Linked DNA regions of Homo sapiens: all the other regions are reported to be linked to region 3. Evidence: microRNA targets listed by miRTarBase, many of them from high-throughput screens and not tested one by one. Region 3 holds a microRNA gene; each other region holds the end of a gene's coding sequence.

Region 1 (3,000 bases), not on the chromosome of region 3:
GGATGGAGTGCAATGGCTATTCACAGGCCTGCTATCATAGCACACTACAGCTTCAAATTCCTGGCCCTCCTGGCCTCAAGTGATCCTCCTGCTTCAACCTTCTGAGTAGCTGGGACTACAGGCATGCCACTGTGCCTGGCCTTATTTTTAATGTATATATTTTTCTGTAGATAGTTGACTATCTGTGGAAGAATACTCAGGAAAATGGCAACAGTGATTGCCTCTTGAGAATTGGGTGACTAGGGAGAGAAGTAGGTGGGAGATTTTTTTTGTATACTCATACCTTTTGAATATTGTACCATGTGCCTTTTGAATATTGTACCATGTGCCTTTTGAATATTGTACCATGTGACAAAGTCTATCAGATAAAGACCACCAAGGAACACACCTGCGGTCAAGTTAAGTTTATGAGCTTGCTGCTGTAAGGAAGACCCCACACCAGAGAAACCAAGGATATAACAGTAAGAGGGAACAGAAGGAAACTTTTTTATTTTTTGAGATGGAGTCTCACTCTGTCGCCAGGGCTGGAGTGCAGTGGTGCGATCTTGGCTCACTGCAACCTCTGCCTCCCGGGTTCAAGTGATTCTCCTGTCTCAGCCTCCCAAGTAGCTGGGATTACAGGCACCCACCACTATGCCCAGCTAATTTTTTTTTGTATTTTTAGTAGAGACAGGGTTTCACCATGTTGGCCAGGCTAGTCTCAAACTCCTGACCTTGTGATTCGCCCATCTCGGCCTTCCAAAGTGCTGGGATTACAGGCGTGAGCCACTGTGCCCGGCCCAGAAAGGAACTTTTACAAGATTTGGGCTTCTGTTGAATGATTGAGGAGAGTCTAGGGAAGCAAGGATTGGCTCTTGATTGGGTATCTCAGCAGTCTGTTCAGAGGCACGAGGAACAAAGCGAAGTCATTGGTAAGAAAGTGGTAATCACTGAAAAGAAGAAGGTTGTTAGGCATTTTGCAGGTGTGGTGTGGCCTTGGGAAGAAGTTTTCTGATGGCCTTGCCACTGGCCCTGTCTGTATCTAGTTGGTACATTACAGTCTGATTAAAATCAGCACTGATCTTTCCTTTCTCAGTCCTGAACTGACTTTTACTTTCTGACACTTGAATGTCTTATCTATTCAAAAACTAAGGCATATTTTAAAGTAAAAAGAATGAAAATAAACCTTCTCCACACACTTCTTGAGCCTAGATTACCAGTTCCCTAGCAAATAAGAAATTTATTTGGCAGACAAGAAAGTCAAGTGTGTGTGTGTGTGTGTGTGTTTCTGAGCAATGCTGCTCCTTCCGATGATCAAATATGAAGAAGTAACTATCTTCAGAAAAAAGATGAAGGCAAGTACCCCAGTACTGCAGTAGCTGATGCCAGGGAGACTGGAGTATAGGGGTGGCTCTGGGCATCATGTCCCCATCCCCTGCCAGGGCTGAGTACTTGGCTCTTGAATCTCTTTTTTCAATTGCTGTTACTCTTTCCCATGATGCTGACTCTAAGAGTGCACAAGGCTAAAACATGCATTGCTCTCAATAGGAATCTGTAGCAGAGACAGCGATGTTTAGGGCCAACAAAGATCTTGGGCAAGTCACTTCACTTTCCACCATAAAGAAAATGAAAGGACTGGAGCAAATGATGCCTGAAATCTTGGCTAAGGCCTCAGCAATCAACATTGGCAGCAATCAACCCCTGCCCTCCTCCCCAATACAACCTTGTTATGTTCACAGTAAAACAATCACAACAGGAAGAATAGTGTAGCATCAGATAAATTGTCTTCCAATCCTTTTCACTAGAGGCAACCCTTAGTTAACAGTTATGTGTTTTTCCAGCTATTTTTGTTCAGAGACAGTATCTCCTTCCCATTTTCCATTTAGGAAAAAAAAAAGTGTAGCTCGCTGCCTGCACTCATTTAGTTTTACATAAACACCCTCTTTGAGGCTGAAGCAAATCTGACTGATTTTCAATGTGAAAATAAAATATAAAAACTGTTCTTGGTGCTAGGCGCAGTGGCTCATGCCTATAATCCCAGGACTTTGTGAGGCCCAGATAGGCGGATCACCTGAGGTCGGGAGGTCAAGACTAGCCTGACCAACATGGATAAACCCAGTCTCTACTAAAAATGCAAAATTAGGTGGGTGTGGTGGCACATGCCTGTAATCCCAGCTACTAGGGAGGCTGAGGCACGAGAATCGCTTGAACCTGGGAGGTGGAGGTTACAGTGAGCCAATATCATGCCATTGCACTCCAGCCTGGGCAACAAGAGTGAAACTCCGTCTCAAAACAAAACAAAACAAAACAAAAACAACAAAACTGTTCTTGGAGTTATTTCTTTTTTTTGAGATGGAGTCTCGCTATGTCACCCAGGCTGGAGTGCAGTGGTGTGATCTCAGCTCACTGCAACCTCCGCCTCATGGGTTCAAGCAATTCTCCTGCCTCAGCCTCCCAAGTAGCTTGGATTACAGGCATGTGCCACCACATCCAGCTAATTGTTGTATTTTTAGTAGAGACAGGGTTTCACCATGTTGGCCAGGCTGGTCTTGAATTCCTGATCTCAGGTGATCCACCCAGGTCGGCCTCCCAATCTTGGAGTTATTTCTAAACAGAACTTGTCTCTAATCCTAATGGAACAGATGTGTATGATGATCGGTATTTAATAATTTTTTTTCGTGTGGTAAATTTCAAAGCACGGAACAACACAAAGCGGAACATCACATTCGGCACAAAAATAGCGCGTTTCTTTCCGGATCTTCTTGCCATCCTTGTCGTATTGGGAGCAGCAAATTTTGCAGCGACCAGTTGGATTCTGTTTCCCGGACGTTGCTGGTATGCTCTTGGGGAAATGTCTTCCAGACAGACGAAGAGGTGTGACATCATCGGAGCAAGGACGACCTCGAAGATGTTGCTGCCCTGGCTTGTGATGCTTTTCCAGCATTCTTTCAATCAATGCCAGTCTGAAGTTTATATGGCTCATCGTGTGCTCAGGATTATCCTTCTTGAACAGGATGTAGG
Region 2 (3,247 bases), not on the chromosome of region 3:
AAACTCCATGTTGAAATTTGATCTCCAATGTTGGAGGTGGGGCCTTATGGGAGGTGTTTGAAGTCATGGGGACAGAGCTTTCTTGAATAAATGAATGCCCTGCCTTGGGGGTGGTGAGTGAGTTCTCACTCTGTTAGTTACCACAAGAGCTGGTTGTTTAAAAGAGCCTGGAACCCTCCCTCCTCCTCTTGCCCCCTCTCTTGCTGTGTGATCTGTTCATACACCAGCTCCCCTTCACCTTCTACCATGAGTGGAAGCAGCCTGAGGTCCTCACCACATGCAGATGCCTGATCTTGAACTTTCCAGCCATCAGAATTGTAAGCCAAATTTTTCTTTTTTCTTTATAAATCACTCAGTCTCAGGTATTCTATTACAGCAACACTAAACAGACTAAGACATTATTGTTTATGATCTGTAAACCTAAAGTCTATACAACGAATTCGGTTTTTATTTCTCCATTCTCACAGGGACAAGAAACCAAGCCAAAATACAGAGAGATCCTTTCTGAACTTGATGAGCACACAGAAAATAAGCTAGATTTTGAAGACTTCATGATCTTGCTCTTAAGCATCACTGTCATGTCAGATCTGCTACAAAATATACGGAATGTAAAAATTATGAAATGAACAGTTTTAAATATGCTGTATAAAATAATGGCAAAAGACAGTGTTATTAAAATGTTTCCATCTTATTTTTGATTAATTGAATATATCTATCATGCATCTGAAATTGCCTAGGATGGTTCTGATTGCTGGTATTCAGATCCAATGTAACTCCAAATATTTACCCATACACTTCAAGAATGTTTGAATGATAAGGTCTCTGTGTGCTTTACAATAGGATAGATTTGATACCACTGAATAATAAATGGCTTTTGCTGAGTCAGTAGCGACCTAGAGCACTCTACTTATAGTCATTGAGTCACTCATTTATTCACTAAACATTTGTTGAGCATCTACTTGATGGAACTGCTGAGGATACAGTAATGAATTGGCCAGGCAATTCCTTCCTTCAGACATGTTTGCAGAAGTCTAGCAGAAGAGATAGACATTGAACAATTTTTAAATAATTGCATACACAGTATAATTAGAATTGAAATAAGGGCTATAGGATGCTAAAAGAGATTATCACCTGATCGGAGTTCAAAGGTCAGAAAAGCTTTACTGACATTCTATAAAAAGCAAAAAAAAAAAAATTGGTCCATGGATGCCAGGGATATGGGTGGGAAATGGGGCTGTCCACAAATGGCACAAGGGGAGTTTTTTATTTTATTTTATTTTATTTTATTTTATTTTATTTTGAGACAGAGTTTTGCTCTTGTTGCCCAGGCTGGAGTGCAATGGCACGATCTCAGCTTACTGCAACCTCGATCTCCCAGGTTCAAGTGATTCTCCTGCCTCAGCCTCCTGAGTAGCTGGGATTACAGGCGTGTGCCACGATGCCAGGCTAATTTTTTTTGTATTTTTAGTGGAGACGGGGTTTCGCCATGTCGGCCAGGCTGGTCTCGAACTCCTGACCTCAGGTGATCCGCCCACAGCCTCCCAAAGTGCTGGGATTACAGGCTTGAGCCACCAAGTCTGGCCAAGGGGACTTTTAAGGGGGCTGGAAATGGTCTCCATTTTGATTGTGAGGTGGTGGCTACAAGATTGCATGCATTTGTCAAACTCATAGAACTGCACACTGAAAAGAGTGAATTGTACTGTATGTCAATTATACCTAAATAAATCTGACTTAACAAAAAAATAAAACCCAGTATTCTTGTAATCTCTGAACACAATTTAACCAACAATTCCTTGGGATTATGATGTAAAAGTAGTCATATCCCAGAGACCCACACCGACTCCCATGACCACCTCCTGTATTCCTGAATATAAATTACATACACACATATAGTCAACGCCTGAACCTTTAAGGTAGACTCTCACAAAGATTTTTATTCATGTAGGACCTCACTTGAGGACAGCAGGCCCCAGTAGGGTAGCTCAGCATATGGCAATGGGCACTCAAGGTCCCCAGAGCGGGCACTGGGCAACAGCCAGAGGCACAAGCCTTCATCAACCCTGGCTTTCAGAGATGCCATCTTACTCTATCTTTACATGGGAGTAATAATGTTCCCCCTTTCCAACTGCAGGAACTGAGGATTACAGTAGCTAAATGATGGTCCAGGATCATTGAGGCAATCAATTTCAGAGTCAGAATCCTGGCAGAAGCAAAGAGGTGCCAAAAGGGGAGGAGAAACAGGAGACATAGTTTTCCGGCTTTGATTCCCATTTTGTTCCAGTCACTTGCTAAGTTCCACAATCAGGCAGGCAGTCACCTAACATGTATTGCACTTCTACCGCAGGCTGTTGCCAAGAGAGAGGCAAAGAGGAACGAGTCACAGTCTTTACCTTCCAGGAGTTTATGGCTGGCAAAACATGTATGTAAATGTGGTCTATTGGAGCTATTCTATAATCCTGTCAAATGCATGGTAGGACTTTACTTCTCTGTTTCCTTACAGTTGAGTGTGCCCATCCTTTGACCAGTGACATCTGAGCTGAAGTGAAATATGCCACTTCCAGGTGGAGGCTTTGAGAGCCTGGGTCAATTCACTGCCCTGCTTCCCTGGGCTGTGATAACTGGCAACATGCCCCATGGAGGCTGCTCCTTTAGCCTGGGTCCTGAGGGAGGCCAGTTTAGAGCAGAAGCCCAGACAAACTGATACAGACATCTTGCTGAAGAAAGAAATAAATATTTTACCAGAAAAAAAGACGGTTATTCACTGTAAAATTATTATAACTTCCCAAGTTATCCCTCACCTCTCATTTTCTTCCCAGCCCAACATTGTATGCCTCATAACCTATGTTAAGAAAATCTGCCAGGCACAGTGGCTCACGCCTGTAATCCCAGCACTTTGGGAGGCCAAGGCGAGCAGATCACCTGAGGTCAGGAGTTTGAGACCAGTGTGACCAACATGGAGAAACCCCATCTCTACTAAAAATACAAAATTAGCCAGGTGTGGTGGCACATGCCTGTAATCCTAGCTACTCAGGAGGCTGAGGAAGGAGAATCACTTGAACCCAGGAGGCAGAGGTTGCAGTAAGCCAAGATCGCACCATTGCACTCCAGCCGGGGCAACAAGAGTGAAACTCCATCTCAAACAAACAAACAAACAAACAAAAAAATCCTTTCCAGAGAGAAACCTTCAGCCTTGCTCTGGTGAAGTGTTGCTTCATCCTGTCGTTTTCCAGATCCACCAGAACCCAAC
Region 3 (3,247 bases):
GAATATCAGTTTGGGCTTAGTTACTTTTTAAAATAAGGCTGTTTCAGATAGTCTCTGCCACACTTTGCCTAGCCTGGTTAATTGTGGGTGGACCCATGCTACATGTTTTGGCATTGCCTTTTTCTTATCTGTACCATATTACAAACTTCCTAGTAATTTGACATTCACTGCTGTCTTTGCTTTAGCTTTCCAACAGGTTTGGTGAAACAGTCCATTGCTGTTCAATATCAGCTTGCATCAGAATTACTTGGAGGGCTTATTGATTAAAACACAGATTGCTGGGCCCTGCAAAAAAAGTTTCTGATTCAGTAGGTCTGGGGTGGAACATAAGAATGTGCTTTTCCCCCCACAGTTCCCAAGTACTGCTGATGCTGCTCCTCTAGGCCCATGCTTTCAGAATCACAGAGCTCATCTTACATTCTTTTCCTGCTAGATATTATGCCCAATTAATACATGAAGTAAAACAGAAAAATCCTTAACTTAAAAACATGTATTAATCCAGAAGTTTGATTATAAAAAGGTTTGTTGAAAATGTGAGACCATTTTTTCTCCCAGAGAAAAAGTATATTAATTGTCTAGCTGGGAGGGGCCTATTTGAATGTGTTTTCAGAGAAAAGCAGAAGAAAAAAATACGGTTGTAATAGAAGTAGTTAAAACAGAAAAGCAGTATGGTTGTAGAGTGGGGTGGCGGGGAGGTATATGTGTATTTAATCTTGAGAACCAATGCTTTTGGAAAACAGCCCGAAGGGACAAGAGACTAGGTAGAGACTGGCGAGGTTCCTGAAAGTCCTGGGTTACCTGTGAAATGCCAAAGATTTTTAAAGTTTGCTGGCAGTGGTTATTATATGTAGTTTTACTTCCAAATTTGAAGATTTCCTCTTCTTTGATGCAAGTGTGTTGGTAGGACCACTGATAATAGTTAGTGGAGATATTTGTGGGAATATATTTTTAATCAGAAAGAATGCAAAAAGAGGGGGAGACATTTCTTTGAGACACCTTAATGACACTGGGAACAGTAGAAGGTGGAAAGAGATCAGAGTGTGGGAAAGATGTGCCTGAGATGAAATTATCTGAATTCTGAATGTGGGGGAGAAGATGAGGAGAGGGTTGAGGGGGAGGAGAGATGACTAAGCTCCTCACAGTGTTTCATTAACTGTCTTTTACCTAAAGGAGGAATCTTCTTAATGAAGATTGGTTGATGCATCATACTGGTCATCAAGTAAGTTCTTATAAATGCAAGTTTGATTGTTTTGAAGGGAAGGATATAGGAAGGCTGGATAATCAGCTACATTTAGATATGGAACACTACAGGATGTCGGCATTTATTGTTGTAAATTCCTTTGGTGAAAAACGTTATCACTTGTTTGTGACTAGCCTGGGCAATATAGTGAGACCTTGTCTCTAAAAAAAATTTTATTAATAAGAAAAATTAGCCGGGCATAGTAGCGTGCCTGTAGTGCCCCCCACTGCCCTGGACACGCCCCCACTTCCAAAAAAACAAACACCCAACTCACTTCTGCCTTTTCCTTGGATTCTACACTTTCTCTCAGGATATCTTTCCGATTGAGTCTTGCCTCATTTATGTGAATGCTGTGCCTGTTCTTTTTTTCAACAGAGTCTTACGTAAAGAACCGTACAAACTTAGTAAAGAGTTTAAGTCCTGCTTTAAACCAAGTTTCAGTTCATGTAAACATCCTACACTCAGCTGTAATACATGGATTGGCTGGGAGGTGGATGTTTACTTCAGCTGACTTGGAATGTCAACCAATTAACATTGATAAAAGATTTGGCAAGAATAGTATACAGAGGCTTGAATTTTTAATGTAATTAATGTAATTAAAGGTTTGTTGGAAATGTGAGACCATTTTGTTCTCCCAGAGAAAAAGTGTGTTAATTGTCTAGCTGGCAGGGATCTACTTGAATATGTTTGCAGAGAAAAGCAGAAGAAAGCATGGTTGCAGTAGGAGTAGTTAAAACAGAAAAACAGTATGCTTATAGAGGAAAAATTACTCTAAATTTATTAAAATTCCTTTAAATTTGTTACTCAATTTAAATTTTTATTGTATCTTTTCAATTTTGCTATAGCACTAACATGACATAAGGCTCTGGGTATTGGGACAAAAGAATGCCCTTGTTTGGTAGTTGGGGTCGGGTTTGTAGTATTGCAGTGTGCTTTAACAAGCATGGGCTTTGACATCAGACATTTGTTGCCATCTGGACTCCACAAGTGAATTTGCTACGGGATTTGGAGGAGGGAAAGGCACTGTTTCCATACCTCAGTGGTTTTCTCATCTGTAAAATAAGTATGTGATTGCATGGATTGACTTACATGATGAATATAAAGTTGTTCATTAGTACAGTACCTGTCATATTAAGTACTCAATAAATGCTAGTTATTATTAATGCTGTGTTGTAGGTGTTCAGTAAATAGTTGCCATAATGCTTAAAGCAGACATAACTTGTTTTTATTTTTGCAATAAAGATGATGCCAACTTTTTGGTTTAATGGAAATGCTTTGAATCTTTGATATTGTTGTAATATAGTGGCAAAGAATTTTGAATCCCAGCTTCTGGAGCTCATATCTTGATTCTGCGAGTTACTTCGCTATGTTACTTTGGGGGAAGTTATTAATCTCTCTGTGCCTCAGTTTCCTCAGTCGACTAAATTGAAATTATAATAGCACCTACCTGATAGGATTGTTGAGACTAAATGAGGTAACAATTTAAAAATAAGCTAATACCTGATAATTAGTTCTATATATGTACTGATTGGTCTAAACGTTATTTCCATTTTCATGTCTTTACTTAAAATACTGAAAATTAATTTTTTATAGCTTTGTTTTTCAGTTCCATGAAATCAGCCTGCCTTTTCTTTTTTTGGTGATACATCCACATTCTGTATAGGTGAAAAGCAAAACAAACAAGTATAAAACGAAAATTATGTAAGAAGTACACACATCCTAGCAGCTTGGCAAGTGTCTGTATGCTCTTGCCTGTGCCTAAATCCAGAATTAGAATTCATGCTTGGTGCTCCTGTGGAAGATGTCTAAATGTTATGAGAAATACATGATTAAATAAAAATGTGAAATGAAAGCATGGAGACTTGTTGAAGGTGAGTGCTGTTTTTCTAATTATATATTTTATTTGTTTAATGAATAATTTGTTAATTTTCTTTGTCATTACGAGAGAGCTGTTTTATTCTGTACTTAGGTGCATAGCATACTATGTTTTAGTGAGCTCCACATGTT
Region 4 (3,247 bases), not on the chromosome of region 3:
TCTTAGTGTTTCTGCAAGGCAAGAAACCCATGTGGTCCCAACTTTTTAAAGATGTGAATTGGACAGCCAGACTTGCTTATTTGTCTGATATCTTCAGTATTTTTAATGATCTTAATGCTTCTATGCAAGGGAAGAATGCAACTTATTTTTCAATGGCAGATAAAGTTGAAGGACAAAAACAGAAGTTAGAAGCTTGGAAAAACAGAATTTCTACAGATTGTTATGACATGTTTCATAATTTAACAACAATTATCAATGAAGTAGGTAATGATCTTGATATTGCACATCTGCGAAAAGTTATCAGTGAACATCTTACAAATTTGTTAGAATGTTTTGAATTTTATTTTCCATCAAAAGAAGATCCACGCATAGGAAATTTGTGGATCCAAAATCCATTTCTTTCATCAAAAGATAACTTAAATTTAACTGTAACTCTACAGGATAAGTTGTTGAAGCTGGCTACCGACGAAGGATTGAAAATCAGTTTTGAAAATACAGCATCACTTCCTTCATTTTGGATAAAAGCTAAAAATGACTATCCTGAGCTTGCTGAGATTGCTTTAAAATTGCTGCTTCTTTTCCCCTCAACATACCTCTGTGAGACCGGATTCTCTACTTTAAGTGTTATTAAAACAAAACATAGAAACAGTTTAAATATACATTATCCCCTGAGGGTAGCATTGTCATCAATCCAACCTAGATTAGACAAATTAACAAGCAAGAAGCAAGCTCACTTATCACATTAAAAGCTTTAAATATTGATATGTAAGGTATTGGTTCAAAGTATGCATATAAGCATTGAGTGTGAGGAATTTGCTATTTCACTTTAAACTTTCTGTCTAGTTACAGTTATGGAAGTATGAGAAGTTATGAGTGAAACAGCAATTTTCTATATAAATTGCCTATATGTATATTTTCAATTAAGAATGTGTACAGTTTTTATAATTCTATTTTTCCTCATATTTGTCGTATTTATTAAAATATAATTTTAAATCTGTTGATTCTAATATTAAAACATTTGATCTTATATTTTGTGTCTTCTTCTTGTATTTCATTAGCATGTTAAGATTGTAGGACAACTTCAGGATGGGAGATGGTTTCTTTGAAATAGACAAGGTCAGTGAAAGGAAGTGAATTCAAAGGGGTAGGCTTAGAATTCAAATGCAGGGGACAGGTCAGTAGGGTATGAAGTTTGTTAAACTGATCCAGAGTGGTTAGGTTGGAAGTTGATGTTGTTTGTTTTGTAGGTGCATGTTTAGACAAAGATGGAAGGGAACACTTATTTTGTAATGGTGTTATGGCCTTGGATTCATATTGATAAATTTATTTACTTATTTATTTTTGAGGCAGGGTCTTGCTCTGTTGCCCAGGCTGGAGTGCATTGGTGCAATCTCTGCTCACTGCAACCTGTACCTCCTGGGTTCAAGTGATTCTCTTGCCTCAGTCTTCCGAGTAACTGAGATTACAGGCACCCACCACCATGCCTGGCTAATTTTTGTATTTATAGTAGAGATGGGGTTTCACCATGTTGGCCAGGCTCATCTTGAACTCCTGACATCAGATGACCCTCCCACCTCGGCCTCTCAAAGTGCTGGGATTACAGGCGTGACCTGCTGCGCCCGGCCGATAAATTCTGATTTCATAAGGATGGGCGATTGGGCCATACTGACAAGTTTATGTTAGGTGGTTTCTAGATTTTGCTAGAACTGATTGCCTTTAAGGTGCTCTGGGACAAAGTCAGAAATTATTGGCACCTCAATTAGATTTAACAACCTCTATTTTGTTTGGAGATGATTCAGAAAAATGCCACAAATATCTGCTCTTGTGTCTGTGAACTCATTTAGAATAATCGAAAGCAAATTAGTCCGATAAAACAGGTTCTTTAGCATCAAAACATGACAGAATCCATGAAGAAAATATCTTTTCCTAGACAGGGTAGCAATTTACAGTAAGTGCTTCGTTTCAAATAAATGTGATATTCAAAGTTAAGGAAAGGAAGGCTATTTAGTGATTCAGAATGTTACTAATAATTTAACCTTTTGGTAATGGAAGTTTCAAGGATCCTCCAAACCTTTGAAAGTAGAGGAAAGGTTCATATTTAGTCCTGAAACCTTAATTGGATTATGTTTTATTGTGTGTTTGTTTTAATCTTACAGCTTTTCAAAAACAAAAAACCTTATCATGGTGGATAGATTTAGAAGACAGTGGTTTAATTTCTCCCACTGACAAATTATATGCCCTCTTTCTTATCTGACCATATTCTAGAACTAAGGGATTTTAAAATGTTTTACAGTTTGTTTTATTGATTGAATAAAGTATTGTGTTTCCCATTTTTAATTTCAAAAGGCAATGTGGTGATTTTATATTTATTTCTATAAAAACTTAAAGTAGTCTGGAAGAAATTAAGAGGGAATTAAGAGTACATATTAAAAGAGAACTAAATTCCCTTACTTTCTCTCTAAGAAATATAAAGTATTAGATGTTTGAGATTGGTACAAAGCCTTCACTTTCTCTCTAAGAAATATAAAGTATTGGATGTCTGAGATTGGTACAAAGCCTTCTCATATACTTGAACAACTATTTTTATTTTTTTCTGCAAATGATTCAGTGCCAGGAGGCTAACTTGCTTTACCTTTTTTTTAAGACATAGGAATATTTGTCTTTCCTCCCTTACCTCCCTGTTTTATTGTCTCACTGTAAATTTTTTTAGGGCAACAGCTTTATTGAGATTTTTATTGAGATCATGAAATCTTACTGCCTATTCTTAACGTGAATTTGATGACTAGTGATTCTGTAGATAACCTGATTTTCTCTTCCTATTTTCTGCTTGTTTTGCAGCAAGTTCACATGTCTATAAACGTGGTATATGAATACAATGCAAAGGTATCTTTATTTGTGTATACTTACAACTACTGTATGCAGTACTGTTTATTTCCATCTATCATGTATATATGTGCTGGTTTTAAAAAATTGTATTTATGTATAACAGGAGGTTGTGTTGGGCTTTTCCTATTACTCAAAGAACAGCAACTAGGGAGGAGTCAAAGATGGGTCAAGGGAACGCTAAGTACTTCACTTTTTAAAGAAATCTGACAATGACTAGAATCAGAAAACCCCACCACCCACTGCCTCCATGCACACACCCAGACCTAACTTGAAGGATGATTAAGAAGTCGTAGAACTAGCTCCCAAAATTGTGCTTTCTGCCAAAGGAATCACTGGTAGTGATTGAAGATGCCTTCAGGAA

The links. Region 3 holds the annotated microRNA hsa-miR-30b-3p (CUGGGAGGUGGAUGUUUACUUC, at 1,724-1,745, shown strand). A microRNA usually pairs through its seed, bases 2 to 8, with sites in the 3' UTR of a target mRNA and lowers its output. Matches are read on the target gene's strand: a 7mer-m8 pairs with bases 2 to 8, a 7mer-A1 pairs with bases 2 to 7 and ends in A, and an 8mer does both.
Region 1: the mRNA of PGBD4 is a reported target of hsa-miR-30b-3p. Seed matches in the 3' UTR shown: 7mer-m8 at 2,192-2,198.
Region 2: the mRNA of SNTN is a reported target of hsa-miR-30b-3p. Seed matches in the 3' UTR shown: 8mer at 1,538-1,545.
Region 4: the mRNA of SCAND3 is a reported target of hsa-miR-30b-3p. Seed matches in the 3' UTR shown: 7mer-m8 at 1,567-1,573.

What each region holds. Positions count from the first base shown.
Region 1 is chr15:34,103,931-34,106,930 of GRCh38, reverse strand. It overlaps PGBD4 (piggyBac transposable element derived 4), which reads right to left. Exons shown (of 1, transcript NM_152595.5): 1 at 1-3,000. The coding sequence ends at 2,642. Among named protein-coding and RNA genes, the nearest start is that of PGBD4, 3.3 kb to the right of the region's middle.
Region 2 is chr3:63,663,470-63,666,716 of GRCh38, forward strand. SNTN (sentan, cilia apical structure protein) reads left to right here. Exons shown (of 4, transcript NM_001080537.2): 4 at 468-1,743. The coding sequence ends at 626. Among named protein-coding and RNA genes, the nearest start is that of SNTN, 12 kb to the left of the region's middle.
Region 3 is chr8:134,799,030-134,802,276 of GRCh38, reverse strand. MIR30B (microRNA 30b) reads left to right here and starts at 1,670; the gene lies at 1,670-1,757. It also overlaps a transcript of ZFAT not described here.
Region 4 is chr6:28,569,410-28,572,656 of GRCh38, reverse strand. SCAND3 (SCAN domain containing 3) reads left to right here. Exons shown (of 4, transcript NM_052923.2): 4 at 1-2,122. The coding sequence ends at 746. Among named protein-coding and RNA genes, the nearest start is that of SCAND3, 16 kb to the left of the region's middle.